Linked DNA regions of Homo sapiens. The protein of the gene in region 3 interacts with the protein of the main gene of each other region in a biochemical or structural test. Each region holds a gene or a part of one and is shown on either strand. Other genes may lie near its edges. The genes, in order: SH2B2, ITK, ERBB2 and ABL1.

Region 1 (7,561 bases), on a different chromosome or scaffold from region 3:
TGCGATGTTGCAATCCAGCCTGGAGGATAGAGCGAGACTGTCTCAAAAAAAAACAAAAACAAAAACAAAGCATTTCAGGTCAATATAGCAAGGAATCCTCTTCCTTGAAAGCACACCGCCTGGGTGTACCATCATGCCTCTGATCCAGCTGGGTGCTGTTGGGATCGCCTTCCTGACTGTCTTCCCCTCCACAATTCTCCCTCCCCTGCAGGTCTCTGATCAGGCTGTCCCCTCCAATGCTGAACCCCACCCCCTAGACCCTGCACAGCTCTCCCACCCAGCCCAGCTCCTCCTCCCCTGCTGGGTCTCTAGGGTTTGCCCGTGTGTGTTCCTCAGGGGTTGGTGACCTAACCTGGGCAGGGAAGAGGGGCTGTCTGAGGTCGGTGGGGCAGAAGGTGGGGCTCTGAGGGCCTTGGTTGGCTCCCACCCCCCACTGGGCGATCTCTGGGTGGAGACCCTCCGAAGCTCCAGTGCTATGAGATCCCCCGCGCGCAGGAGCTGAAAGGATTTGCAAATTTGGGTTATTAGAAGGGCCCAGCCTCCTGAGGGCTCAGCCGCCAGTAGGTGGCCTCCCCTTCTGGAGAATGCAGAGGCTGAAATAGGGCTGACTGCAGTCCCTCAGTGATGTGTAGGAGGGACGCAGGTGGCTCACGGAGCATGGCTGGGGTGAGTGGGGCCCGTGGGAAGTCATGCCACACCTGTTCGCCTGCAGCTGCTTCCAGGGCACAGCCTCAGGACCGGGGTCACCATGACCCCTCTCCCTCAGGGCTGGCCACTGCACCCCCATGGCGCCCCCCACACACTTGCCTTGGCCTTGCCCTGGAAGTTGAAGGTCAGCACGTACTCCCCAGGCCGAGTCTCACTTTGGCGGATCACGAAGAGGCCGTGGTTCCGGGGCCCCCCTGCCAGAACCAGTTGAGCAGCCTTGACCCGGGACAGTGTCCCGTGGAACCATGGGTAGTCGGATAGCTCCAGCTCGGGTTCAGCCTCGGGATCCGTCTCTGCACCCTGTTCCCCTGAGGTGGGGATGACAGTGTGAGGAACATGGGGGGAAGGAGAAAGGGGGACAAATAAATAAATGTGAGAAGAGAGGTGACGTCTTGTTGGTTTTTTTACATGCAAAATGCTGTTGGAATAATGTTTAAAAAGTTGGTTGGTTTTTAGTTTTTATTTTTTTTTTGAGACGAAGTTTCGCTCTTGTCGCCCAGGCTGGAGTGCAATGCTGCAATCCCGGTGGCTGACTGTAACCTCTGCCTTCCGGGTTCAAGCGATTCTCCTGCCTCAGCCTCCCGAGTAGCTGGGATTACAGGCGCCCACCACCACACCCAACTAATTTTTGTATTTTTAGTAGAGATGGGGTTTCACTGTGTTGGTCAGGCTGGTCTCAAACTCCTGACCTCAGATGATCCACCCACCTCGGCCTCCCAAAGTGCTGCGATTATAGGTGTAAGCCATTGCGCCCAGCCTTATTTTTTATTTTTTAGAGATGGAGTCTTGCTGTGTTCCCCAGGCTGGTCTCAAACTCCTAGGCTCAAGTGATCCTCCTGCCTTGGCCTCCCAAAGTGCTGGGATTACAGGTGTGAGCCACTGCACCTGGCCTGAATATTTTTTTGTTTGAGACAGAGTCTTGCTCTGTTGCCCAGGCTGGAATGCAGTGGCGTGATCTCGACTCACTGCAACCTCCGTCTTGCAGGTTCTAGTGATTCTCCTGCCTCAGCCTCCCAAGTATCTGGGATTACAGTCATGCACCACTATACCAGGCTAATTTTTGTATTTTTAGTAGAGACAGGGTTTCACCATGTTGCTCAGGCCGGTCTTAACTCCTGAGCTCAGGCAATCCGCCCGTCTTGGCCTCCCAAAGTGCTGGGATTACAGGTGTGAGCCACTGCGCCCAGCCAAATAATTTTATTTATTTATTTATTTTTTGAGATAGGGTCTTGCTCTGTCACCCAGGCTGAAGTCTAGTGGCACAATCATAGCTCACTGCAGCCTTGGCCTCCTGGGCTCAAGCAATCCTCCCACCTCAGCCTCCTGGGTAGCTAGGACTATAAGCCTGTGCCACAATGCCTGGCTAATTTTTGTTTATTTTTTGTAGAGACAGAGTCTTGTTGCCCAGACTAGTCTGGAAGTCCTGGGCTCAAACGATCCTCCTGCCTTGGCTGCTTGAAGTGCTGAGATTACAGGTATGAGCCACTGTGCCCAGCTGGAATAATTTTAGAGTTGGGCAGGGAGCTGACCCAACCCACTGGTGAAGTCTATGAGGTAAACTGAGGCACAGAGCTGTGAAGGACTATCCTGGAGTTACTCTGTAAGTCATCAGCAAACTTAGGAACAAATCCAGTCGCCTGTTCCCAATCCCTGATTCCAACCCTATGGACCCTTTTCTGTGAGCTCCTTCCTTCCCTCCCTCCCTCCCTCCCTCCTTTCTTCTTTTCTTTTCTTTTTTTTTTTTTTTTTTCTTTTCACAGGGTCTCTCTCTGTTGCTCAGGCTGGAGTGCAATGGTGTGATCACAGTTCACTGTAGGCTTGACCTCCTGGGCTCAAGTGATCCTCCCACCTCGGCCTCCCAAGTAGCTGGGACTACAGGCACAAAAATGTTTGTGGCCAGGCGTGGTGGCTCACACCTATAATTCCAGCACTTAGGGCAGGAGTTCAAGATCAGCCTGGCCAACATGGCAAAACCCCATCTCTACCAAAAATACAAAAATGAGCCAGGCGAGGTGGCGGGCACCAGTAATCTCAGCTACTCGGGAGGCTGAGACGTGAGAATTGCTTGGACTTGGGGGTGGAGGTTGCAGTGAGTTGTGATCCGCCACTGCACTCCAGCGTGGGCAACAAAGTGAGACTCTTGTCTCAAAAATTTTGTACAGATAGCGTCTTGCTATGTTGTCCAGGCTAGTCTCAAACTCCTGGCTTCAAGTGATCCTCAGCCTCAAAAAACACTGGCTGGGATTACAGGTGTGAGACACTGCACCCAGCCCCTGTGAGCATTTTCTTTTCTTTCTTTTTTTTTTGAGACATAGTCTCACTCTGTCGCCCAGGCTGGAGTGCAGTGGCGTGATCTTGGCTCACTGCAACCTCCGCCTCCCGGGTTCAAGTGATTTTCCTGCCTCAGCCTCCCGAGTAGCTGTGAGTACATGTGTGCACCACCACACCCAGCTAATTTTTATATTTTTAGTAGTGACGGGGTTTTGCCATGTTAGCCAGGCTGGTCTCAAACTCCTGACCTCAGGTGATCCGCCCGCCTTGGCTTCCCAAAGTGTTGGGATTACAGGCGTGAGCCACCGCACCCGGCCCCTGTGAACATTTTCTATTGAAACTGGGTCCAGTGGGAGGGGCCAGGTTCCTAGACCAGTCTACAAAAGCCAGAAGTACTTCGGAGACGTGTGAAGGACCCAGGAGGATGAGATGTCACAGCTTCTGAGGCTTAGCAAGGTTTAGGGAGCCCATGGGTGGCCATGGCTGGGGGTGGGGGTCCAGGAGAGGTGGGATGGGAAGAGCAGGCTGTCCCCACTGGCACCTGTGTTATTGCTGTCACTGCCGCTGCCGCCCGGGGATTCCAGGGTCTGCAGAAAGGTCTCTAGCGGGACGTGGATCAGGGATTCTCTGACGGCATCTCGACCTCGGCTGTGGGGGGCTGTCACCACTGCACCCACGGCTGTCGTCTCTGGGGGGCGGGGCAGGTCGACTGCTGGGGAAGTGGCAGGTAAGATGCACGTATCTTTATCTGTCCACCCTGAGTGTGCCCCTCCTTCAACCCTGTCCCCCTACCTACCATCAGTCAGGAGCTCACAGCTGCAGGAGGCCACGCGGCTGGCCAGACAGCCTCCTCGGGTACAGGAGAGCTCGGTGTCTTCCTCACTGTCACTGTGGAGACAAGAAATGGAAACCATGTCCTGCCGTGGGACTTGGACTCGGACCACAGGCTACTTATGTGGCCAGGCAGTGGCTGGCAGTCCCATGGCCCAGCATCTAGGCCTCCTGGCTCTGGTCACCTCCCTCTGCCTCCATGTCCCTCTGTCCCACCCTACACTGGCTCTGTGGCCACCGTGTGATTGACCAGGCCACTGTTGGGGCTCAGAAAACAATACCGCAAAACAAAGTCCTCAGCAGCAGCCTCGAACAAAAAAGTTTTTCTCTGACCTTCTCCTGCCTACTTGTCTCTCAGTCCTCTTCTCCCCAGAGGCACCAGAGAAACAAAAGTCCCTTTTTCCCAAGGTGGGTCACAGAAACCAGAACCCCTTTTCCCAAAACGTAGTCATAAAACCTAAAAATATTCTTTTTTTTTTTTTGAGACGGAGTCTCACTCTGTTGCCAGGGCTGGAGTGCAGTGGCGCGATCTCGGCTCACTTTGCCTCTGCCTCCTGGGTTCAAGCGATTCTCCTGCCTCAGCCTCCTGAGTAGCTGGGATTACAGGCATCTGCCACCATGCCCGGCTAATTTTTTTGTATTTTTAGTAGAGATGAGGTTTCACTGTGTTGGCCAGGCTGGTCTCAAACTGACCTCGTGATCTGCCTGCCTCGTCCTCCAAAAATGCTGGGATTACAGGCGTGAGCCACTGCGCCCGGCCAACCTAAAAATATTCTATGTAAAAACTTGTCATAAAGAAATTATCCAGCCAGGCACAGTGGCTCATGTTTGTAATCCTAGCATTCTGGGAGGCTGAGGTGGGAGGATCACTTGAGGTCAGGAGTTTGAGATCAGCTCGGGCAACATAGCGAGACCCCCATCTTTTTTGTTTGTTTGTTTGTTTTGAGATGGGAGTCTTGCTCTGTCACCCAGGCTGGAGTGCAGTGGCACGATCTCAGCTCACCGCAACTTCTGCCTCCCGGGTTCAAGTGATTCCCCTGCCTCAGCCTCCTGAGTAGCTGGGATCACAAGCATGCGCCACCATGCCCAGCTAATTTTTTTTTTTTTTTTGTATTTTTTGCAGAGATGGGGTTTCACCATGTTGGCCACGCTGGTCTCAAACTGGTGATCTGCCCGCCTTGGCCTCCCAGAGTGTGGGGATTACAGGCGTGAGCCACTGCACCTGGCCGCAAGAACACGTCTTTTTTTTTTTTTTTTTTTTTAGACAGAGTTTTGCTCTTGTTGCCCAGGCTGGAGTGCAATGACGCAATCCTGGCTCACTGCAACCTCTGCCTCCCGGGGGTTCAAGCAATTCTCCTGCCTCAGCCTCCCGAGTAGCTGATATTACAGGCATGTACCACCACGCCCGGCTGATTTTGTATTTTTAGTAGAGATGGGGTTTCTCCATGTTGGCCAGGCTGATCTCAAACTCCCAACCTCAGGTGATCCGCCCACCTTGGCCTTCCAAAGTGTTGGGATTACAGGCATGAGCCACCGCGCCCGGCCCTGAGAATCTCATCTTAATAAAAGAAAATTAGCTGGGCGTGGTGGTGAGGCAGGAGGGTCAATGGAGTCCAGGAGTTGGAGGCTGCAGTGAGCTGTGATCATGCCCCACTGCCCTCCTGCTTGGGCAACGGAGCAGAAAAAAAAAGTAAAAACAAAAGGAAAGAAAGAAACGGAAGAAGGAAAGGAAAGCAAGAAAGAAAGAAAAAAAGAAAGAAAGAAATTACCCAATCTGCCTGGTTTGACTGTAGGTCATAAGACCCCCATTCAAGATAGGGTTCTGTCCCACACCCAGAAGGAAGGAATGCTACTCAGAGAGGCCAAGAAGAATCTGGACAGACAGGCCTGGCTGGGTCCCCTGCTCAGTCTATTCCCTTTAGATCCTACCCTTTGTATCCAATCCTCTTTCTACACTGCTGTCCATACTTTGCTGAACCTAAGCATAAAAATGGACCATTTCCCTGTATCCTTTTTTTGAGACAGAGTCTCCCTCTGTTGCCCAGGCTGGAGTGCAGTGGTGTGATCTCGGCTCACTGCAACCTCTGCCTCCCAGGTTCAAGTGATTCTCCTGCCTCAGCCTCCCAAGTAGCTGGGATTACAGGTGCATGCCACCACCAGGCCCAGCTAATTTTTGTATTTTTAGTAGAGATGAGGTTTCACCATGTTGGCCAAGCTGGTCTCAAACTCCTGACCTCGTGATCCGCCTGCCTCGGCCTCCCAAAGTACTGGGATTACAGGCATGAGCCACCATGCCTGGGATTTTTTTTTTTTTTTTGAGACTGAGTCTCACTCTGTCACCCAGTGGAGTTCAGTGGTGCAATCTCAGCTCACTGCAACCTCCGCCTCCCAGGTTCAAGCAATTCTCCTGTCTCAGCCTCCTGAGTAGCTGGGATCACAGCGGGCCCGCCTCCACCTCCAGCTAATTTTTGCATTTTTAGTAGAGATGGGGTTTCCCCATGTTGGCCAGGCTGGTCTCGAACTCCTGACCTCAGGTGATGTGCCTGCCTCAGCCTCCCAAAGTGCTGGGATTACAGGCGTGCACCACCACGCCCAGCCCTCCCCTGTATCTTTGAGTCTTCATTCTGAAGGCTCCTATGTATACACGTTAAATAAATTTACATGCTTTTTCTCCTATTAATCTGCCTTGTGCAGCTAAGCACTGTGGCTCATGCCTGTAATCCCAGTGCTTTGGGAGGCCGAGGCAGGCGGGTCTCTTGAACCCAGGAATTCAAGACCAGCCTGGACAACATAGCACGATCCCGATCCCGTCTCTAAAAAAAAAAAAAAAAAAAAAAAGGCCAGTTGCAGTGGCTCACGCCTGTAATCCCAGCACTTTGGGATGATGAGGTTGTCAGATCACCTGAGGTCAAGAGTTCGAGACGAGCCTGACCACCATGGGGAAACCCCGTCTCTGCTAAAAATATAAAAATTAGCTGGGCTTGTTGGCAGGTGCCTATAATCTCAGCTACTTGGGAGGCTGAGGCAGGAGAATTGCTTGAACCTGCGAGGTGGAGGTTGCAGTGAGCTGAGATTGTGCCATTACATTCCAGCCTGGATGATGGAGCGAGACTCCATCTCAAAAAAAAAAAAAAATTAAGCCAGTCATCGTGGCATGTGCCTACAGTCCCAGTTACTTGGGAGGCTGAGGCAGGCAGATCAGTCGAGCCCAGGAGGTCGAGGCTGCAGTGAGCTTGATTGCACCACTGTACTCCAGCCTGGGTGACAGAGCAAGACCTTACCTCTAAAAAATAAAATAATAAAATAAAAATAAATAAATAAATTTGTATGCCTTTTCTCTCATTTATCTGCCATTTGCAAATTGATTTTCCACTGAAACTTCAGAAAGCCCAGGGGAAGGCTCTCTCTTGGCCCGGATACCACTGAGTGGACAGTCCCCACTGAGGGCCCATGATCCCTGCCCACTATCCTTGAGGGGCTGGGCTCCTCCTGGGATCCCGTGCAGACCCTCAGAGGGTGGGAAGGTTTCTCTCCCGATTTGTGACATGAGGTGTCTGGGACCCTGCCAGCTCGAAAATTCCACTAAGTGAGGTTCACCTTCACAGCGGCTGGGGAAAGAGTTTGCAGAGCAGATGGTCCGGAGGGCGGTGGAGGAGGGATTACAATCACTTTGTGGATCAGGGCCTGGGAGGCGCCCAGGACCTTAATTGTGTTTCTTTAAATGAAGCTGTTAATTAGAAAGCAGCGGCCC
Region 2 (7,515 bases), on a different chromosome or scaffold from region 3:
TCCTCTGTCATAGAATTTCAGGCATCAGGGACAACTTGGAAAAAAATTGACAGGCACAGGAGAGCCTCTGAAATCATGTCTGTCTGCAAGCTACCACCTGCCAAATCTATGCTTCTTTCTGGCCCACTGCTCCAGCAAGATGAAGGCGCTTCTTGGCCCCTCTGAAAACACTTGCACATCTCAACAGGAAAAACAGGCATCGAACACCAGAACTAAAACCATGTTAAAGTAAAACCTCAATCAATTAGTATTATAATGACAATAGGCATGATTTTTTAGGTTAGAATAAACATACTTGATTTCTAGAATTACAGAATATGTTCTTGAGTATGTAGAAGGGTTATTTTTCATATGGTGTTATAAATTCATAGAATATGAGAACTGCAAGAATCATAATTTTACACATGAGAAAAGAGAAAAAGAAGCTCTGACACCCGACACCCTAAGAGGGGCAATAACTGGCCAAACAGCTCATAATGCATGTATATCTACCCCACAAAACTTATATTTAGCCACAGAATAGAAGGAATCCAGGACCCTGATCTTAGCTTGACTTTGAAGAATCCTTGAATATCTCCCATAATTTGAAAATGAATTGTTATGACAGCCTGCTAGCTTCTGTAGAGACATGAAAGGGATACAAATAATGGTTAATTTTTACTAGATGCTTACCAGATGACAGGGCCTATGCTAAGTACCTAATATATTAAGTTGAATTGTTTGAAACTTCTAATATCTGATATTCGATCTGCCAAATAATTTCAAAAAGTTCAGCCTAAAGACATTATACCTCTGAGTCTTTGCCATCTTCCTATGAAATGGGTACTATTATCACACCCATTTTACAGATTGAAAATGAAGCCTTTAATTTAAAAATGAAAATGTTCTTCCCATAAGTGTAATGTTATTTACTTATGAGTAATATTAATGCAGCCTTGTGTGCAAATTGGTGGCCTGAAACCATGTAGTATACCTAAGACATGAACAATAATAATTCACATATATTACCTTTTTCAGGGAACTTGGATAAATTTCTAATTAATAAACTTCTATAATAATTAAATAATTAAAGAAATACTTTTAAAATGTTATTTATAAGAGTAAAAAAGGCATTAGAAAACAAGAAATTTGATGTTTGGACATGTATTCTCTATATCTCACATGGAAGAATTAGAAACTGTAGCCTAGGGCTCCCCAGAATGAAGTAATTGTCTTGAAATTTTCCATAATGCTCAGATAAAGAAGTAGGGTGATTTTACAACCTTGTCTACATGCAAATTATGACCAATAATATTCTGAATTAAGGCCATCTGGTTTTGTGATTACTTACAAATAATATTGAGCTGAATTCACAATCAGTTCACAAATAGCAGTTGGGCTAAGGAATTATTAATACTAACTAAATGAGATGATACTATGTTGAATCAGAAAAACGAACTGGTGAAAACTGCAAAATGGACTTTGAAAAAAATATTTAAAGGTACATGACTGTTCTTTCAATATGAAACAAAAACTTTAAATGTTCCATTCACAAAAAAGCATTGAGTAATGCCATGCGATTTATTAGCTCTACATGATAAATCCCCCAAGTTCACAAACTGGGCTCCTGGCCACCTAGCAAAGAGGACTTGCACGTAATTCCATGTGTTTTCTGATTGACTGGTAAATTGTTATCAGTAAGAGTCTGATAATAAGACAAGCAATTCTTTTCACTTCTAAAGAGGCAGAGCTATTTCGCCTGCAACTTTTTTGTTTTCTGTATTTTTTTAATTCACAAAAGACATGCAACACCTGCAACTTTAAAAAGTGAGGCATCCATAGGCTCTATACCCAGCCTGACCTCCTCTGGAGCTCCATCTCATGAAGTGCTTTAAACCCTGGCACACCAAAGAATCCCAAACTCATGCCACCACCTACTAAGTCAGACTCCAACAAAGAACTGGAGCACTTTTGTTTCTAAGTGACCATCAGGCACCTAATATTATTTTCCCTTCAGTAAAATATAAGTGATAATCCTTGTCCTACCCCACTAATGATGTAAAAATAATATAACCATACAGTAAGAAATCAAACATGCTTTGAAAAATTGCAGCATAGGGCTAAACAAGAGCCACTGCATAAAGCAAAGAAGTTTTGAAGAAGAAAGGGATCTTGAAGGTTGTTATTTCCAGTTTTTTCATTTTATGAAGAAAGAACCTGAAACAGGAGGTAGACATTTGCCCAGACTGGATCACCTACTGAGAAGTAGAGTTTGGTCTCCTGACCCTTTGTCCAATGCTTTTTCTACCAAACTACATTATTAGGATTATTCCTGTTGCTTTTGTTATTAGTGATGTTAAGAAGCACAAGACTATTTTTAGATAAAGAGATAGACTGACCTAGCAAAGCAGCCATACTCCTTCTGGGTAAGAACCGCTGGTCTGCACTGCAGAAACTTTGTTCTTAATAACCCTGGTGTCCTAAGAAGTCTATCAAGAGATGAAGAGGTTTGCCATTGTGCCTTACAACTTTTAGATAATTAAATGCCTGGGAAATCTTATTTCAAGATCAGGCTAGCGACGAGTATTGAGACAAACAGAGTTATTCATGAAAACGTTAACACTGAACCCAAAACTTAACCATTCTAAACACCAGTTTCTTCCACTAAAAAATAAGAAAGCTGGGGTAGATCATCCCATTGAATGCTAGTGTTGTATTAATCTATGTTTCATTAAATTTAGTATGTTTCATTAAATTTAGTATGTTTCATAGAAAGTTCAAGTTTTATCGAATCATAATACTTGCTACCTAAAATGTTATTCATAATTTAAAAACCAAACATAACCTTGCAGGGGGAAAAAGCTGATGAATGTTAAATTTACAGTTTTTAGAACTGAAATCACCTAGCACCACCATTTCACCTCTTGACTGCTCTCTGCATTCTCCTCTGATTACTTTTACTGTACTTTTTATGTTGTTACAATAAGCATGTTTGTGTTTCCTGTGCTCTATTTTATGCTATGTATATATTTTTGCATTAGCCCAGTCCAAACATAAAATGCTATGCGAAAAAAGACAAATGAAACTGCTCACATACCCCATGACGATCTTCAAAGTATGCCAGGCTGGCTTTGGTTAACACAAAGAAGCGGACTTTAAAGTTCGAGGGAGAAGTTCTTCTCTTTTGTTGGGATTTCTTGATGAGCTGTTCTTCCAGGAGGATAAAGTTGTTCATGATCCAGTTCTTGAAAGGTGGTGCACCTTGGGCATCACCTCTTAGCACAACCAAAGGAAAGAGTTTTGGGGCAAAGAATGCAATGTGGAGGCAGTTGATCTTCAGAGAGCTGCTCAAGGGCAACTTGCCTTCAACGTTATCTTTCTATCAACGTTCAGCCAACATAGCTGAGCTTCTCCTCTGATGTCAAAGGCCGAAACCACATCCTTTCAAAATTCACAAAACGAGGAGGCATATGTAAAAAATACATACAGCCTTTGCTAATGGCTTGAAATGATATTTGAAAAACTGTAAACTCAAAATTGTGGTAAGGATTACAGTTTAATCTTTATAGTTCCTGGTTTAATCCATCCAGCAGTTAAATCATGTAGCACAAGGAGTAAGGACAATGTGTGGTTTTGCTTACCATGATATACTCAGCAACCATCACAGTACCTGACACATAAAACAGATGTTCAAGAAAAATTTGTTGAATGGATCATCACCAAATTGGGTTGGACAATTAAAAGAGGTAATGAGCACAAAACCCTCACACATTAAAGTGAAGAAATATGTTGCTGAAGTTTATTAGTTTTTAAGATTTAAATTAAAGCCCATAGAAATTTCTCAATGCTACATATAGATGACTGCCTTTCTGTCCTGACGTTTTGTGGAAGAGTGAAAAATAAGTGAATCCTTCAGAATGGCATAATAAACAAAGTATATGTGGGCTTTGAAAACAGACAAACTTGTGTTGGATTCCCAGCTCTGTCACTTACTATGCTGTTTCTCTTTGAGCAAGCCATGACTTCTCTGATCCTTAGCTTCCTTGTGAGGGTCCTTTGGAGGACTGAATCCCATACATCTTATGAATGGTAGGTGCTAGTCATACATGTCACCTTAGAGTTAGTACATAGTTGAAGTATAATGTGTGACAGTTACCTCTACTATGTTAATAATCAAGAGATTTTAGTGTAAGCAGATATTGCATGTAGTGGGTAGGGATAAATAATAAATGAAATAATAATTATTGCTGTATAGGAGTGAAATTCTCCAATGTTTATTTTTAAATGTAAATTACCAGACAACAGCCTAATTTTATTTCATATACTGGATGCCCCAGCATAATCAAGACACCCAGGAGGGTACGGTACTGGTATATTTTAAATTACCTCCCCCATTCTGAGATTCTTAAGACATATGTGTGGAAATACACTGCCCAAACAAGATAGTATTTTTTTTTTCTGAGTATGGGCTTGAGGTAGGGATTGCTACTATTCCCAAATAGCTACTCTCTCCTTCTTACTAGAGTAACAGAATCCCTGACAGTTATCTGGGCATCTGGCCAGCAAGAATAAAGACTACAAATTTTAGCCTCCCTTGTAGCTAGGTGTAGTTGTATGACTGTCTTCTGGTCAACTGAATGTAGCAGAAGTCGTGTGCACAACTTCTAGGAAATTTCCTTAGTGGGATCTGTCATCCCCTTTTCTTTCCCTTTTCCTCCTGCCTTGTGACTAGAATATTGAGGTAACAGTTGGAGCTGAAGCAGCTATCTAGTATCATGAGGTGGAAATTGAATGTTGAGGACAATGGAGTATAAGATAGAAAGAGCCTGGGACCCTGGTGACCATGGATCTTCCATGCCAGCCCTGGATTACATTTTTTAATATCTATTTTCTAAGTCTCAGTTATTTTGAGGTTTCTGTCACTACCAGCAAACCTAGATAATACAGTGCTATCTTCTCAAACTAGACTACAAACTCCTCTGAGGAAAGTACATTTTACACCTGCTTGGTTCAGATGAAAAGAGTTATAGACTTCACAAAGTGTTCTCATCCGGGAAAACAAAATATCATCAGTAGCTGTTGCAATACTTAGGAGTCTTTCGTTTGCTCAGTCTACATGGAGTGTCATCGTAAGTAATTTTATTCTCTTTCTCATAGAGCCATCAAACCCACTAACTGAGACTCATCTTTGCCAACTTTTAAATGCAAACTTAGGAGGCTCAATATTTTTTTCTCACTTTAAGGAAAACATAAACAAAAACAAATAGTCCCTTTGTTTGTTTTGGTTTTAAAAAGTTCACTTCATAGGAGCCAAATTCAAGGAGTTCCCACTTGCCAAAGATGGAACAATTTGAGTATCAAAAGGAATAATAATTGCCATGAATTGAAGAACAGCAAAAATGTTAAAACAATGAGTTCAAAAGAGAATTGAAAAAAGCATCCCAACCTTTTGATCACTTTTGGAGGATGCTGAAGAACCAACTTGTTTTTCTGAAAACTGGAAACAAAGGAAAAAAATAAAACATATTGCTTGCTTTTCTTGAAGAATTATCTTTCAATTCAGTGATCAAGTATTTAATGAGGAAGTTCTTTTTTTCCAAGAAACTAATCAATGAAGGAGTGACAGAATACTATCGTTTTGCAATGCCAATGAAATAATAAATGTAGGCAATGATCATCAATGGCTGTTAAAATTATTACGCAAAAAGCCAATAGGAAAATGTATAACTGTCATATGAAGCTGACAACACTGTAACACACTGATTAATCTTAAAAGAAGGACAACCAGACATTGTATGTCTCCTGAGGTGAAGCAAGAGGAAGTACACAAAACTGGCAACTCGGGAGTCTTGCCAAGAGAAAACAAAATCAAACACAAATCTAATCAAACTTCGAGATATAAATTCGAGTTTACAGGAAATACAAGAGATAAACGAACCTGACAAATGACACTGTGGAGATGCAATTGGATGAGTCCAGAATACAAAACATGCTAAGGACAAATGACTCAGTATCAGTAACAAATAAGTCATAGAGGGCAGGGCACGGTGGCTCATGCCTGTAAGCCCAGCACTTTGGGAGGTCAAGGGGGTGGATTGCTTGAGCCCAGGAGCTTAAGACCAGCCTGAACAACATGGTGAAACCCTTTTTCTACAAAAAATTAGCCAGGCATGGTGGCACACACCTGTAGTCCCGCCTACTCGGGAGGCTGAAGTGGGAGGATCACTTGAGCCCAGTGGGTGGAGGTTGCAGTGAGCTGGGATTGCAGCACTGTACTCCAGCCTGGGTAACAGAGCCAGACTCTGTCTCAAAAAACAAAAGCAAAACAAAACAACAAATAAATCAAAGGGGGAACCCTTAGATTAAAAGAGACTTTAAGAGACATATGAGCATGTTTGGACTTTGGATTAAGAGTTAAGCAAATCAACTGTATAAAGACGTTATGAGACAATTAGACAAATTTGAATGTTAAAGAGATGTTTGATAATACTGAGAAACTTGTTATTTTTTAAGATGTAATAATGGGCTGGGTGTGGTGGCTCACACCTATAATCCCAGCACTTTGGGAGGCTAAGGTGGGCGGATCACGTGAGGTCAGGAGTTCGAGACCAGCCTGGCCAACATGGTGAAATCCTGTCTCTACTAAAAATACAAAAGTCAGTGGAGTGTCGTGCTGTGTGCCTGTAATTCCAGCTACTTGGGAGACTGAGGCAGGAGAATCGCTTGAACCTGGAGGGCGGAGGTTGCAGTGAGCTGAGATGGTACCACTGCACTCCAGCCTGAGCAACAGAGCAAGACACCATCTCAAAAAAAAAAAAAAAAAAGATGTAATAATGGCACTATTATCATGTTAAAATAGTCCTTATTTTGTATAGAAACATACACTGAATTATTGATAAAACAATAAAATGTTTATGATTTGCTTCATCATAATCCAGTGGAGGGGGAGAAATTGGTAGGGGAAGGGATGAAAACTGTTTGACCATGACTTGATAATTGCTAAAGCTGGCTAATGGGTACATCATTATTCTACTCTCCTTGCACCGATGCACGTTTGAAAATTTCCATAATAAAAAGTTAAGCAAAGAAAAAGGGGCTGGGCGCGGTGGCTCACGTCTGTAATCTCAGCACTTTGGGAGGCCGAGGCGGGTGGATCACCTGAGGTCAGGAGTTTGAGACCAGCCTGGCCAACATGGTGAAACCCCGTCTCTACTGAAAATACAAAAATTAGCTGGGCATGGTGGCAGGTGGCTGTAGTCCCAGCTACTTGGGATACTGAGGCAGGAGAATAGCTTTAAACCCAGGAGGCGGAGGTTGCAGTGAGCTGATTGAACCACTGCATTCCAGCCTGGGTGACAAGAGCAAAACTCTGTCTCAAAACAACAACAACAACAACAATACAAAGAAAAGAAAAAGAAAGCCCAGTTCAGTTCAAGGTAATAATCAAAACTCCAAACATGTATTCAAGTTGATGCTTTTCCGTAACTTTGCATGGGTTTGCTTCAGGATTTGAAGCATGTTGGCTTTTCCACCATG
Region 3 (7,561 bases):
GAAAATGGAAGTTCAGAGAAATGAAGCAACTTATCCAAGGCTCCCAGCTACCCAGTAATGTCCAGGGAATTTTTGGACTCTGAAGAGGAGGCATTAAGAGGTGGTTAGAGTCTTATTCCAGCCAACAATAATGGGTTGAACAAAGCCTTAGGGGCAGGCAGGTGGCCAGATGGGAGGAGAAGCGCTCCTCTTGTTCAGGCGAATGACCTTTCCATCCACTTCTCTAGGCTGTAGAAAGTGGAGCTGAGCTGGGGGCCCTGAGGTTCCCTCTTGACTTCAGAGTCCTCTCCCTTCCTGTCCAGCCAATGCCTGTCTTCCTTTTGGGCCCTACCAGCATGACAGGGGGCTGCGGGCAGGAGGGGACAGAGGCCACGTTGACACACAGGGCTGTGGGTGAGAGAGACAGCTGAAGTGTCAGCGTGAGGGGCCAGTGTGGGGCTGCGGCTGGGAGGGCTGGGGTGGGGCCCAGGGTAGTTGTGCCTGTCCTTGGGTGATGGAATGATCTGGAAAGAGATTCCTTCCCTGCCCTCCACCTGTGAGAAGCCCCTCTAGAGTGACATCTCCATCTTATGTTTGGCCACCCATCCTCCCCCTGGGAAGAGAGCCGAGGTGGGGTAAGGGATGTGTACTCTTTCAAGGAGTGGGAGAATTATTCTAGCGAATGTTTGTGTTGTCCCAGTTCTGTTTACAAAGCCTCGTCATGTTTACAGATGGCTGCGCAATTCATTACCTCATTTAACTCTCATGTACCTCCTCTGAGGGAGTAAGAGCTGTTACAGCCAAGTTTAGGTCAGTAAATATTCACCAAGTTGCAGGTACTGCAGGGCATAGAGATGAATCCGATTTAGCTTCTGCCCTGGAGGTCTGGGAACTTGCTCAAGATCACTCAGTGAGCAGCTGAGCTAGGGTTCTCAACTAAAGACCCTGGGCCCAGGCCCTGGTCTGATGTCAGGCCTGATACACCAGGTGTTTGTGGTCGGGGAATCCCAGTGTCACTTGAATGGGCTGTGACATTATGGGTCTGGGAGAGCTGAGCTTTGGGGACACAGGTCATTTTACTGTAGTATTCATGGAAACCAAGGGAAGTATTGGCTTTTCTGCTGTGAGCAAGAGGAGCAGCTGGGGCTGCAAGCTGGTGGGGAGGAGAGAACCCACCTGAGAGAAACCTCAGGACTGGGGTCAAGTCCTGACCACCAGAGTCCAGAGAGACATGAAGGACTGTGACCAGCTCTGAGCAGAGAGATGGATTCCATGACCTCAACTGGTCCCTTTTGTTCGGAGACTCGTGACTGGACTTCATTCATCCACTCATTCATTCATTCACTCAGCAGACACTTATCTAGCGCTCCCTGTGGCTGGTCCTGCCTCATACTGTCTTTGCTCTGGAGAATTGGAGGTTGGGGTTCCTGAGGGGCAGGGTCCTGGAGACAAGGACACTCCTGGGTAGAATTAGGACCTACCCCCCAGGAAATCAACGGGGACCAGGTGCCGTGGCTCACACCTGTAATCCCAGCACTTTGGGAGGCCGAGACGGGCGGATCACAAGGTCAGCAGTTCAGGACCAGCCTGGCCAACATGGTGAAACCCGCCTCAACTAAAAATACAAAAATTAGCCAGGTGTGGTGTCAGGCACCCGTAATCCCAGCTACTGAGGAGGCTGAGGCAGGAGAATTGCTTGAACCCGGGAGGCAGAGGTTGCAGTGAGCCGAGATTGCGCCACTGCACTCCAGCCTGGCGACAGGGCGAGACTCCATCTCAAAAAAAGAAAACCAATGGGACAGGGCAGATATGGGGACAATGGTAAGGAGATGGGAGAGTGGGAGGGAGGTGTCAGGAAGACCTTCTTGACTTCATGTAGGCTGGTGGGGGTGTTAGCCAGCAAGCCTCCAGTTCCCTGGGAACCGTTCTCAGGGTACCAATTTTACCACCTGTCTGCAAACACTTTAAGATTCTTAATCAGACTCAAATTGGCCACAAATCAGGTAAACAAACTCACTAGTGGGGTGGGGCTACCACCCGTTCTGACCCTCCAGCCCAACCCAGCCCAGCCACCCTGCCCTCCGTAGAGCCTGTGGTGTTTATCGGTGGCATTGGGAGAATTAGTGTGTATTTATGTTGGCGTGGGGTGTGGGGTGGATTTGTGTGTGTGCAGTTAGGCCTAGTGGAAGGAATGTGGGATCTGAAGGCAGGCCAGCCTGAGTTCCAGTCCTGCCTGTTGCTCACAAGCTTTATGAGGCGAGAGCTAACCCCTGCCAGCCTCAGTTGTCTTCTTTGCAAGATGGAGGTTGCAGCCCCAGTCTCTGGAGCATGTTATGCAGATCCACCGAGAGTGCCTGCCAGGCACACAGTAGGTGCTCAGCTCAGTTACTGTGGCGGCCCCCACTCCCCATTGTTGTTGTTTTCCTATTGCCTGGCGGCCACAGCTGGTATCCCTTGAAAAGGGCTACAGGGGGTGGAGTCGGACCCTGCCCCAGCCCTGTGGAGACCCTGGGCTTGGGCCAGGGCCTGGGGTCTGGGCCTGCAGACAGCTGTGTCTATAAAGCAGCTGAAGGGCTGAGGCCGGGGGAGGTCCTGGCAGCAGGGCGTTATTTTGGGCCTGGCCTGCCACCCCCAGCTCCTGTTTCTCTTGGGAGTCTGTTGGGGGAGGAAGTGTGGGGAAGAGGAGGGGGTGCAAGTGGGTGAGGCATGGAGTGGGGAGGCCTCCCTCAGGGACATGGACCCTTGAGTTCTATTTCTGTTCCTCCCTCCTGTTCCTCCCTCTTTGTCCTTATCTGCCTAGAGAGGTGGGAATAGAGGCCATTCTGAGTATCACTAGGAGACCACCAGTTTGTGGCCACTGGCCACTGGCCCAGGCAGGGAACCTGGGGGCTTGCCCTACCAGCCTCTCCCAGCAATCTGAAGGCAGGGGGTACCTCGTATTACCCCCTAGGATTTGACCTTAGGCTCCAACTTGCTGGGAGAGCAGTGCCTCTGGTGTCAGACCCCAAGCCAGCCCTTGTGCTGTCCCTGAATCTGCATGTAGCCTGTGGGAGGCGGAGCAGTGACCGGCAGGAATTCTGGGCAGCTCAGGCACCTGTGGGCCTGAGGGTGCCCTCTGCCCCCACCCTTCCGATCTCCTGGGCAAGACACGCCAGGTGATTCATCTCACCAGAGCAGAAAAACAAGTTCAACTGGGCACTTTAATCTCCCCTCACTGGCAGGCCTGGTGTGAGCTGCTACCCCGGCGCCCCTCACCAGGGGTGCTTTACCTCCTCTAGTATTCCTGACCTTAGTGGGCATTTCTGGTCTCAGGGATACCAGGCTGGGGTCCAAGTGGGCCAGGTGTGGCAGTTCAGCCCTATGCCCCATGGCTGATGGCTCGCGCTGGGCAGGTATGCAGGGCTGACGTAGTGCCTTTGTGGCAGCAGTTTCGTGGCACACATTCTGCCAGCTGGTTCTGGAGTCTTGCCCTGAGGAGGTGGCCAGGGTGAGGGTGCCAGCGCAGGAACCTTTGGCGCATGCTTCACCCTGGCCTGGGATCTGCAGCCTGGGTCCAGATGCCCACAACTGGAATCTGACGCTCCTTTTCTCTTCATGGGGGACTCCCAGAGGTCTCTGCAATGACCAGAGCCCCGGTTGTCCCATGCCTCAGCTGCAACTCCAGCTGACCCTCCTTCCCCACTCTCTGGGTGGCATTACGGGGGTGTGGATCCCTTGCCAAGAGGTTGGCATGTGGGTGTGCTGGAATGGCATAGGGAGAATGCACCGAGTTTGTTTGCTTGGGAGAGGGGCAGGGGGTATCCAGAAGATTCATGATTCGTCATCGCCTCTCTTGGGGGATTTTTACCCCTTTGCCCTGAGTTGTGCCTTTGGGACAAAGGAAGCCTTTCTTTGCCAGCCAACACCCTGTACTGGCGGGCGAGCTCCCCAGGGCTGGCACGCTGGGGCAGCCTCTGAATGCACAGGGTGGGCCTAGTCAGAAGAAGCCTTTCCCCTGAAATCCCTCTACTTCCCAAGCACGCAAGCTTTCTCCTGCTGTTAAACCTGCAGTGTGCAAGGGACATGGGCGGAGGGGTCCTTCAGTCAGGCTTCTCCCTGTCTGAGGTGGCATGACTTGGAGTGAGTTTGGATGGGGTGGCCAGGTCTGAGAAGGTCCCCCGCCAGTGTCCTCTGACCCATCTGCTCTCTCCTGCCAGTGTGCACCGGCACAGACATGAAGCTGCGGCTCCCTGCCAGTCCCGAGACCCACCTGGACATGCTCCGCCACCTCTACCAGGGCTGCCAGGTGGTGCAGGGAAACCTGGAACTCACCTACCTGCCCACCAATGCCAGCCTGTCCTTCCTGCAGGTGAGGCCCGTGGGCAACCCAGCCAGGCCCTGCCTCCAGCTGGGCTGAGCCCTCTGTTTACAGGTGGGTGGCAGAAGAAGGTGCCCTGCCCTTCTGTTTCCTCTCTTGTTGTGGTTTCTCAACCAGGAAGTCCTTTCTAACATCTAACCCCCATTCATTTTACTGCAGAATCAGTTGACTCTCTCTATAACGTGGCTGGCCGAGGTCATGTCTGGATGGGATGCGTCTGTGTTTCCGCTAAATCTTGTGCTCTCTTGCCAGCATGATCATGTCCCCTGTCCACCTGCTCCAGCCACTATCCCTCTCCCACTTACAGCAGAAGAAAGGGCTGGTGAGAAAGGTGGATTACAGGCCCACTTCTGCCACTGACGAGCCCTATGAATGTGGCCTACACCCCCTTAGCTTCACTGGGTCTCAGTTTCCCTATCTGTATATTGGGAGCAGTTGTGAAGCTCAGAAGAGAAATGTCTGTGAAAAGGTTATGAACAGGAGGGAGAGTGGAAACCAACCTGCTGGATCGTGTCCACAGACCCTGGAATGGGGCCACATGCTTGGTTTGTCAAATTGCAGACGCCGGCCGGGTGCGATGGCTCATGCCTGTAATCCCAGCACTTTGGGAGGCCGAGGCGGACAGATCACTTGAGGTCGGGAGTTCGAGACCAGCCTGACCAACATGGAGAAACCCCGTCTCTACTGAAAATACAAAATTAGCCAGGCATGGTGGCACATGCCTATAATCCCAGCTACTTGGGAAGGCTGAGGCAGGAGAATCACTTGAACCTGGGAGACGGAGGTTGTGGTGAGCCTAGATCGTGCCATTGTACTCCAGCCTGGGCAACAAGAGTGAAACTCCGTCTCAAAAAAAAAAAATTTGCAGACGCCATCCCATCCAGGCCTTTGCTTTCACTGATGAAGAAACTGAGATACAGAGAGGGCAGGGCACCTGTTCGGAGTTTATGAAATGCCCCCCCACCATTATCTTTCTTGATCATATAAGAATCTGGTGAGGCAAGGTAGGGCGTGATCTTTATCTCTATTTTATCGTTTTATTTAAGCGGGAACAGGACTGCTCAGTGGCTGGGGGCCTTGCCCAAGATCTCCAAGTACTGGGGAACCCCAGGGAGGCCCTGGGGGGTGGCAGTGTTCCTATTTCAGCCCCACTCTGCTTCCCCCTCCCAGGATATCCAGGAGGTGCAGGGCTACGTGCTCATCGCTCACAACCAAGTGAGGCAGGTCCCACTGCAGAGGCTGCGGATTGTGCGAGGCACCCAGCTCTTTGAGGACAACTATGCCCTGGCCGTGCTAGACAATGGAGACCCGCTGAACAATACCACCCCTGTCACAGGGGCCTCCCCAGGAGGCCTGCGGGAGCTGCAGCTTCGAAGCCTCACAGGTGGCCTTCACCGTCATTGAAACCTTCTCTTGGTTATTCAGAGCTGACCAGGGCCACTGCTAACCAGGGGGAGGCTTTGTGTGCATTAGAAATGGTGTCCCTTCTGGGCAGACGCAGGCAGAGCCCGGGAAGACGCCCTCAGAAGATTGGAAAAAGATTCCCCTTCTTCCTGGGAAGTTGTAGCTTGCGTCAGCACATATAATTCAATCGTGAGAATGCAGGCTGGGTTTTTGCCCCCACTTGGCTGAGTGAAGTGTACAGTGAACAACCTATGTAACTATTTGCTGGCCCTGGAGCCGACTCTGCCCCAGAGTCTGGGTGCCAGGTGCTTTGCCCGCATGGCCCATTTCAGTCACGCTGCAGTCCTGTCAGGAAAAAATCAGTGTTATTCTCATTCTACATATGAGAAAACTGAGGCTTGCAGATATAAGGGCCAAAAGTTACACAGCTAGTGAGTGATGGGGCTGAGTTTCAGACTCCACAGTCTCTTAACCACCAAGCAGCATGCCCAGAGTAGAGGTGAGAAGGAAGGAGAGAGCTGCGGTCCACATGAGCATCTGGACCTAGCATGGACAACTCACTCCTCCCTGGCTCTCGCTTTGTTCTTGTTGCGGGTGTGGTGGTGGTGGGACTCAAAGACGGTAAAGATAGCTTTCTCTCCTCCCTGGGGAATCTGGGGGTTGTTTAAAAGGCCTGCTCCTCTTTTAGAAGGCAGGAGGGCCCCAAGGGAAGCAGAAGGTGACAGAAGGGGAAAGGGTCCTCTGATCATTGCTCACCCCACAGAGATCTTGAAAGGAGGGGTCTTGATCCAGCGGAACCCCCAGCTCTGCTACCAGGACACGATTTTGTGGAAGGACATCTTCCACAAGAACAACCAGCTGGCTCTCACACTGATAGACACCAACCGCTCTCGGGCCTGTAAGCCATGCCCCTCCCTGCTGCCTCTTCTCTCAGACAGCCTGACCCCAGCCGCAAACTCCCAACTTACAACCCAGTGCCTGCCCGCCACTGCCCCAGCCGCCTACACCACCCATTTCCTCCCTCTCTGTCCCTCCTGCCATCTCCCTGTGCCTCTTCATCTCTGGGGTTCTCTGTCTTGTCTCCCTCTGCTTATAGGTTGTGCCTCTGGTTTGGGGGCCTCTCAGCCTGTCTGGGTCCCTCCCTTGCTGTGCAGTTGGCCTCGTGGCCTCTGCTGCTGTTTGTGCCTCTCTCTGTTACTAACCCGTCCTCTCGCTGTTAGACATCTCTCTCACTGCCTGTCTCTGGTTCTGTCCTCAGGCCACCCCTGTTCTCCGATGTGTAAGGGCTCCCGCTGCTGGGGAGAGAGTTCTGAGGATTGTCAGAGCCGTGAGTCTCAGGGAGGCCTGGAGTCAGGGAAGGGGAGGGCTGGGGCCGGGTGGAATGCAGGTGTCATACAGGTGACATGGGAGGGGTGGGATAACAGGCTTGGGATGTCTCCCCTGGGCCAGGTAGTCTCCCTAGAAGGTGATGCTGATGAGGGTCTGGTGCCCAGGGCGCCACTCAGCCCTCATCCTGCCCTTTGCCCAACAGTGACGCGCACTGTCTGTGCCGGTGGCTGTGCCCGCTGCAAGGGGCCACTGCCCACTGACTGCTGCCATGAGCAGTGTGCTGCCGGCTGCACGGGCCCCAAGCACTCTGACTGCCTGGTATGTGCCTCTGCTTTGTGCCCAATGTGCTCTACCCCCCAGGATGCAAGGGGTGGGCACCCTGCCTGGTACTGCCCTATTGCCCCTGGCACACCAGGGCAAAACAGCACAGTGAAAGCCAGCCACCTGTCCCCCCAGGCCTGCCTCCACTTCAACCACAGTGGCATCTGTGAG
Region 4 (7,561 bases), on a different chromosome or scaffold from region 3:
GAACTTTCACCAGGAAGTGAACCGAATGACCCAGGCTGCAGTCCCACATGGCTGCCCTTTCACCCCACTGCAGGTACCCCGGGATGGGTACTTTACCGTCTGAGATACTGGATTCCTGGAACATTGTTTCAAAGGCTTGGTGGATTTCAGCAAAGGAGGGCCGGTCAGAGGGATTCCACTGCCAACCTGGACAGATGAAACCCAAGTCAGATCATCCATGAGATCTGGCTAGCAATACGGGGCTAGCAGTTCTCAAGGAAAAGTCTAGAATGAAAGCAACATTCCAATCCTGCTAACCATCTTTTGCTGCAACAAGTCAAAACGATGAATGTCATCATGTCCTGTTATAGACATTAAGAATTTGAAAAGACGTTAGATGCTGGCAGGAATATGGATTGTAAAACCCCAGAGAGACAGTGACAGCAAGAACTGCATTTACAAATATATTTTTCCCAGTCCCGCTCTAGTAGGTGTAGAAAATTACTAAGCCAAACAGCTCACCTTCTATCTTGTTCTTTCTTCACGGTTATCAAAGTCTGAAGTAAAGAAATTCTCATGAAAATGAGACTAACATGAGGACTAAACAGACTGACAAAGCCTAGTACTGGGGACCAGGAACAGTCACTCCCATATGCGTCTGACTGGAGCATACAATGGCACAACCTTTTTTAACAGTTTGGTAAAATGTATCAAAATTTAAAACCCACACAGTTCTTGGAACCAACAGTTCAACTTTTAGAAATACCAGCCAAAGTGCCCAGAGATTCGTGTACATGAATATTTGTTTCTGCTTTGTTTATAAGGGCAAAAACCAAACAAATGTGTAAAACAACCAAATGCACATCAAAAGAGGACCGGATGAATGAGTGAAATGGAGTACTGGGCAGCTATACATAAATAAGAGGTAGGGAGAGGGAGAGATCTGAATATATGGACGTGGAAAGACATGTGTGGGAAAACAGTGTAAGAAATGGCCATATAAATACCTTATAAGATATATGAAAACATCCTGTGTGTGCATAGTACAGATAACACATATGTAATCAGTATAAAACGACCAGATAAAAATCACCTCGCAGCTGGGCGTGGTGGCTCACGCCTGTAATCGCAGCACTTTGGGAGGCCGAGGCAGGCAGATCACCTGAGGTTGGGAGTTGGAGACCAGCCTGACTAACATGGAGAAACCCCATCTCTACTAAAAATACAAAATTAGCCGGGCGTGGTGGTGCATGCCTGTAATCCCAGCTACTTGGGAGGCTGAGGCAGGAGAATCGCTTGAACCAGGGAGGTGGAGGTTGAAGTGAGCCAACATTGCGCCATTGTACTCCAGCCTGGGCGACAAGAGCGAAACTCCGTCTCAAAAAAAAAAAAAAAAAAAATCACCTCATGAGCTTAGCTACTATAGCAGAATGTCTGTGAAAGCAGGGCCCAGGAATCTGTATTTAGGAATACACCCAGGTTTGGTATCTATCAATACCATTTTTGCTTTAAAAGACAAGTCACGCACATACTATTTATCTGTAAATAAAGGTCAATAGGTAGCAAATGGCTACATTAGCTGCATCTGAAGAACTGGAATGGAGAGAGCTCATGGAAAAACTTTCAACTTTGTGTACACACTCCTGCACAGTTGAATTTCCTGGAATGCCCACATATACTCGTGAGAACAGGCTGAGGAAGGCTTACATGCTCGCATGAGTTCATAGACCTTCTCTGGGCAGCCTTCTGGGCGCTCCATGCGGTAGTCCTTCTCTAGCAGCTCATACACCTGGGACAGGTCAATTCCCGGGTAAGGGGACATGCCATAGGTAGCAATTTCCCAAAGCAATACTCCAAATGCTGAAAGAAAACCGAAAGAGAAAGGCTGTTCAAGATGTGTAGCATTTCACTACACTACATTTAAAATCAGTTACCTTTGCAGCAGACCTCAGAAGGGATGGCCCCAGCAGCAGCCCAGGCTCTGACATTTTACCAGGCTCTTTATCATCAGAAGACCAGGACAAGGCTGGGTGCGGTGGCTCACGCCTGTAATCCCAGCACTTTGGGAGGCTGAAGTGGGAGGATTATTTGAGGTCAGGAATTCAAGACCACCCTGGCCAACATGGCGAAACCCCATCTCTACTAAAAATACAAAAATTAGGGGCCGGGCACGGTGGCTCACACCTGTAATCCCAGCACTTTGGGAGGCCGAGGCGGGCGGATCACGAGGTCAGGAGATTGAGACCATCCTGGCTAACATGGTGAAACCCTGTCTCTACTAAAAATACAAAAAAATTAGCCGGGCGTGGTGGTAGATGCCTATAGTCCCAGCTACTCGGGAGGCTGAGGCAGGAGAATGGTGTGAACCCAGGAGGTGGAGCTTGCAGTGAGCCAAGATCAAGATCGCGCCACTGCACTCCAGGCTGGGTGACAGAGCGAGACTCCATCTCAAAAAAAAAAAAAAAATTTAGCCAGGTGTGGTGGTGTACGCCAGTAGTCCTGGCTACTTTGGAGGCTGAGGCAGGAGAATTGCTTGAACCCAGGAGACGGAGGTTGTAGTGAGCTGATATTGCTCCACTGCACGCCAGCCTGGGCGACAGAGCAAGACCCCGTCTCAAAAATAAAAAAAAAAAAAGGAGACCAGGACAGAACAAGACTCAGTAAACTTACCCCACAAACATGCTAGAGGAGGGCAGATGATGAGTTTCAGACCCTGTGGGGTCTTTTAGGTAATGTGACCATCTTGCTGGGATATGTGGTAGAAGGAACCTGGCGCCGGAAGTCAGCTGGCCATGTTAACTCTTAGCTCTGTGACCAACCAGCTCTGTGCCTAACCGGCCACCACTGCTTTCTGGGTGCACAAGACTATCTCCAAAGCCCCTTCTAACTCTAAACATTTCATAAAAATCTTATGAAATCTTTGAAAGTTTTGAAATCTGAGATTATTGCCTTAAAATTCCATTTCCCATTAAAGGATAAGATTCCTTAGAGAAATGGGTGATTCAGGCCTGGGGCACAGAATGAACCTGCAATAGCTTGTCATTTGAGGGCGCGGACGTCATGGAAAACTACAAAGTTAATGTCAAAATGACTAGGAGCTAATGTGAAGTTCCCACTGGCCAAAGACGAGACAATCTGAATATCAACAGGGAAAATAACCGCAGTGGACTGAAACACATCAGATATATATAAATCTGAGAGTTCATAATACCACCAATGACAGCAAAAACCTAATTGGCCACCACTGAAGGGTATTAAGAAACTAACTTGTGCACTTTGGGAGGCCAAGGTGGGCGGATCACGAAGTCCGGAGATCGAGACCATCCTGGCTAACGCAGTGAAACCCCGTCTCTACAAAAATAGAAAAAAAATTGGCCGAGTGTGGCGGCGGGCGCCTATAGTCTCAGCTACTCGGGAGGCTGAGGCAGGAGAATGACGTGAACCCGGAAGGCGGAGCTTGCAGTGAGCTGAGATCATGCCACTGCACTCCAGCCTGGGCGACAGAGTGAGACTGTCTCAAAAAAAAAAAAAAAAAAAAAAAGAAACCAACTTGTGGCAGGGCATGGTGGCTCACGCCTGTAATCCCAGCACTTTGGGAGGCCAAGGCAGGTGGACTGCCTGAGCTCAGAAGTTCAAGGCCAGCCTGGGCAACATGGTGAAACCCCATCTTTACTAAAAATACAAAAAAATTTAGCCAGGCGTGGTGGCAGGCACCTGTAATCCCAGCTACTTGGGAGGCTGAGGCAGAAGAATTGCTTGAATCTGGTAGGCGGAGGTTGCAGTGAGCCGAGATCATGCTACTGAACTCCAGCCTGTACTTTGTACCCCAGAAAAAGCAAGACTCTGGCTCCAAAAAAAAAAAAGAAAAAGTAATTTGTTATTTTAAAAACTGGTAAATAAAAACAAAGAAGCAAGAATTGACCCTGCTCTTCCTACATGAACTGTACCACTGAGTAACCACACAGATGAGGAACTGTTTCTCCTCATACAAGTTTCCACTAGTAACTTAACAGGAATGACAGAATTAGAGAATTCCTACCTGGCAATACCTAGCAAACTATTGGATCTAGGCACTGTATATCAGTAACTGCCAAAAATTACTCAAAAAAAAACCCCCACAAAAAAACGATAGCAAATCAAGCATTTTGGGGCCAGGCGTGGTGGCTCACGCCTGTAATCCCAGCACTTTGGGAGGCCGAGGTGGGTGGATCACGAAGTCAGGAGTTGGAGACCATCCTGGCCAACATGGTAAAACCCCGTCTCTACTAAAAATACAAAAATTAGCCGGGGGTGGTGGCATGCGCCTATAATCCCAGCTACTCAGGAGGCTGAGGCAGGAGAATCGCTTGAAACCAGAAGGCAGAGGTTGCAGTGAGCCAAGATCGTGCCACTGCACTCCAGCCTGGGCAACAAGAGCGAAACTCCGTCGGAAGGAGAAGGAGAAGAGAGGAGGGGAGGGAGAGGGGAGGAAAGGAAGGAAGGAAATAAATGAAGCATTTTGTATCTACTGATGGAAGGGCACACCATCTCCCCTGATCCACTCTTACTAAAAGAGAAACAGTCAAACCTGAATGTGATGAGGCCGTTCCAGATCCAGCCACCCATTACTAGGAATACTGAAGTCAGAGGAACATATTAAATCACACCATGGGAGACAATGAGCAAAACCCAGAACGTACGAAACTCTAAGGATGGTTTCTTCAATAAACAGCAAGGGAAATAAAGACATGGAGAGGGGGCTTATAGAGGAGACTTAACAGATCAGCAGATACACTGTGCACCATATTTGGACCTCAGGCCAAATACACAGTTAAAAAAAAAAAAAAAAGGGTGGCTGTGCACAGTGGCTCACACCTGTAATCCCAGCACTTTGGGAGGCCAAGGCAGGCAGATCACCTGAGGTCAGGAGTTCTAGACCAGCCTGGCCAACATGGTGAAACCCCATCTCTACTAAAAATACCAAAAATTAGCTGGGTGTGGTGGCGGGTGCCTATAATCCCAGCTACTCAAGATGCTGAGACAGGAGAATCGCTTGAACCCGGGAGGGAGAGGCTGCAATGAGCCAAGATTGCACCACTGCACTCCAGCCTGGGTGACAGAGTGAGACTCCGTCTCAAAAAAACAAAAAGAAAGGAAGAAAAGAAAGGGAAGAGCAAGAAAGAGGCAGAAAAAAACCCTCCTGTAGTCAGGAAGGACCACTTCAGTGCAGCAGCAGCCCTTACCCCAGACGTCGGACTTGATGGAGAACTTGTTGTAGGCCAGGCTCTCGGGTGCAGTCCATTTGATGGGGAACTTGGCTCCAGCATGGGCTGTGTAGGTGTCCCCTGTCATCAACCTGCTCAGGCCAAAATCAGCTACCTTCACCAAGTGGTTCTCCCCTACCAGGCAGTTTCGGGCAGCAAGATCTCTAAGAAAGGAAAATGTTCACCCATGAGAGCTCCTGGCCAACCTTCCACTTCACAAATCCACCACTGCTGAGCAAAGGTGCAATGCTGACAATGGAAAGATTGAGTCCAATGCCCTGGAAGTTTGTATTAATGCCCACGGCAATTAACACAGTGCCAGCCTCTCAGCAAACACACCCTGAGATCCCAACATGGGGAGAGGCTGGTGCTGGGAGCGGGCTCCCTGGCCTCATGACCTGGAGCAAGTTAATTACCCTGGGACTCAGTTACCTCATCCGTAAAATGAAGACGATAATAATGGCACCTACCTCTTAGGGTTGCTGTGAGTGTAATTAATTAATATGCTAAGTGCTTTGATTGAAGTGTCGAGAATAGTAAGTGCAGTTATTGCTACTCTATGCCAGGCACGGAGACAAACACTGAGCCCAGTCCTTGATTGCAAGAAACTTCTATCAGAGTGCATCTCCACTTGTCCTATTCAGACTTGATGGGACAAAATAAAACAAAGCCCATGGCATTCTTTACCCAAACTGTGTTTCCTACTTCCCTCTTTCTTCCTGAGGTGTACCCAAATGTATCCTAAAAAACTCTCTCCTGTATAATCTGCTTCCTCTCACTTCCTGATTCTCCCAGGGAGGTAGGAGTCTAATCTTTGGTTCATGAACATTAACCATGAAATCACAAGGCAAACGGGAAGAGCGGAATGAGAGGGGGCAGCAGCTTGAGGTGATGGCTGCGTGAGATAGCCTGATCGTCAGCAACAAGAGTGAAATTAAATACAGAAGAGTTGTGCCTAAGAGGATTTTGATAAAGCATTTTAAGTTCGCTTGAATGAAGAAGGAACGGACCCGGCCGTGCCAGGCAAACCAGAAGTCAAGCAATCTCAATTTGCAGCATCAGAGGATTCACTTTCCTGAAAGCCAGGAGTATCTGGATCAGGCTCTCATGGAGCATAGAAAATCTGTCTTACAAGGAGCCGCCAGCATTTCACACATGCTACCCTTATTCCTTGCTATGAAATCTCATGTAGAGGTTTCATACTTGAGCTAATTGGGTAGGAAAGGTCACAGTGGTGGTGTGGAGAACATCTCGTATAAAAGACGCCAGCAAAGCCCATCAGGCTCTGTCCTGCACAGGCCGTCGCTTTGCTGGGAAGCCATTTCCACCAGCAAAGAATTTGAAGACCAAGATAATTGTGGCACATTTGAAGGTCAAAACACTTCAGGGTTTAAAACAGCAAAGACACTTAATTTAGACCTCCACATACACAATTCTGACAATTGTGGAAACATCCCTGAATCAGAGGACAGCAAGTTAAGTGGAGAATGAAAAGATAATAAAGAGAAAGCAGGAAAAAAAGACACACACACTAAAAAACAAAAGCCATGTACTGGTTGTTCCCATGAGTTTGCGTAAAAGCAATGCCAGCGGCTCCCAGGAAGAGGCCATTACTGCTGGGCGCTGGCCCCGGAGGAACAATGAGTACTCTCTTTCAGAGGGGACTGTGATTATTAGGAAGGACGCCTTTTATGAACTTCATTTAATATTCCACTTAGCCCAAAATGGTTCAAAAATGAAATATTCCTTACTCCGGGGATTAGCTGCTCCACTGGTCCAGAGTCTAGGCCTGGCTGAATTTAGCCCTGGATGCATGCCCAAAGCTGGCTTTGCCAGGAGCCTAGTGTTTGCCTTTGTTCCAAGGTCCAATGTGTTGCCAGCACTGAGGTTAGAAGCTGCGCCCTGAGACCTCCTAGGCTGGGGCTTTTTGTAAAAGGCTGCCCGGCTCCACGCCCTGTGACTCCATGGCGCAGGCTGCCTGGCCAGGCCCCTACCTGTGGATGAAGTTTTTCTTCTCCAGGTACTCCATGGCTGACGAGATCTGAGTGGCCATGTACAGCAGCACCACGGCGTTCACCTCCTGCCGGTTGCACTCCCTCAGGTAGTCCAGGAGGTTCCCGTAGGTCATGAACTCAGTGATGATATAGAACGGGGGCTCCCGGGTGCAGACCCCTGCCAACAAGACAACGAGGACTTCAACACGTGGCTCCGCTCCCAACTGAACAAACAACTGTCTAAAGAAAAAGCCTTCTGAAGGATTCTGACTCTGCTCCTCAGTCCTGGGCCCAACTTCCAACATGGTCCCAAGCACCTGCATCCTGAGACTGTGCTCGTGTGGG

What was found.
Region 1: the proteins of ERBB2 (region 3) and SH2B2 form a complex in vitro, tested with the Homo sapiens proteins (2 studies listed by BioGRID and IntAct, with this or other methods).
Region 2: the proteins of ERBB2 (region 3) and ITK form a complex in vitro, tested with the Homo sapiens proteins (2 studies listed by BioGRID and IntAct, with this or other methods).
Region 4: the proteins of ERBB2 (region 3) and ABL1 form a complex in vitro, tested with the Homo sapiens proteins (3 studies listed by BioGRID and IntAct, with this or other methods).

What each region holds. Positions count from the first base shown.
Region 1 is NC_000007.14:102,310,642-102,318,202, reverse strand, and holds part of SH2B2 (SH2B adapter protein 2), read right to left. Parts: intron 3,868-7,561; coding exon 3,776-3,867; intron 3,692-3,775; coding exon 3,521-3,691; intron 1,017-3,520; coding exon 808-1,016; intron 1-807. UniProt on the Homo sapiens protein: Adapter protein for several members of the tyrosine kinase receptor family. Involved in multiple signaling pathways. May be involved in coupling from immunoreceptor to Ras signaling. Acts as a negative regulator of cytokine signaling in collaboration with CBL.
Region 2 is NC_000005.10:157,176,677-157,184,191, reverse strand, and holds the start of ITK (tyrosine-protein kinase ITK/TSK), read right to left. Parts: upstream 3,353-7,515; 5' UTR 3,215-3,352; coding exon 3,077-3,214; intron 1-3,076. UniProt on the Homo sapiens protein: Tyrosine kinase that plays an essential role in regulation of the adaptive immune response. Regulates the development, function and differentiation of conventional T-cells and nonconventional NKT-cells.
Region 3 is NC_000017.11:39,702,815-39,710,375, forward strand, and holds part of ERBB2 (receptor tyrosine-protein kinase erbB-2 isoform a precursor), read left to right. Parts: exon of another isoform or gene 1-100; intron 101-4,175; coding exon 4,176-4,327; exon of another isoform or gene 4,328-4,390; intron 4,391-5,506; coding exon 5,507-5,720; intron 5,721-6,428; coding exon of another isoform or gene 6,429-6,503; coding exon 6,504-6,638; intron 6,639-6,998; coding exon 6,999-7,067; intron 7,068-7,271; coding exon 7,272-7,387; intron 7,388-7,525; coding exon 7,526-7,561. UniProt on the Homo sapiens protein: Protein tyrosine kinase that is part of several cell surface receptor complexes, but that apparently needs a coreceptor for ligand binding. Essential component of a neuregulin-receptor complex, although neuregulins do not interact with it alone.
Region 4 is NC_000009.12:130,872,693-130,880,253, reverse strand, and holds part of ABL1 (tyrosine-protein kinase ABL1), read right to left. Parts: intron 7,395-7,561; coding exon 7,217-7,394; intron 5,387-7,216; coding exon 5,202-5,386; intron 1,840-5,201; coding exon 1,687-1,839; intron 187-1,686; coding exon 97-186; intron 1-96. UniProt on the Homo sapiens protein: Non-receptor tyrosine-protein kinase that plays a role in many key processes linked to cell growth and survival such as cytoskeleton remodeling in response to extracellular stimuli, cell motility and adhesion, receptor endocytosis, autophagy, DNA damage response and apoptosis.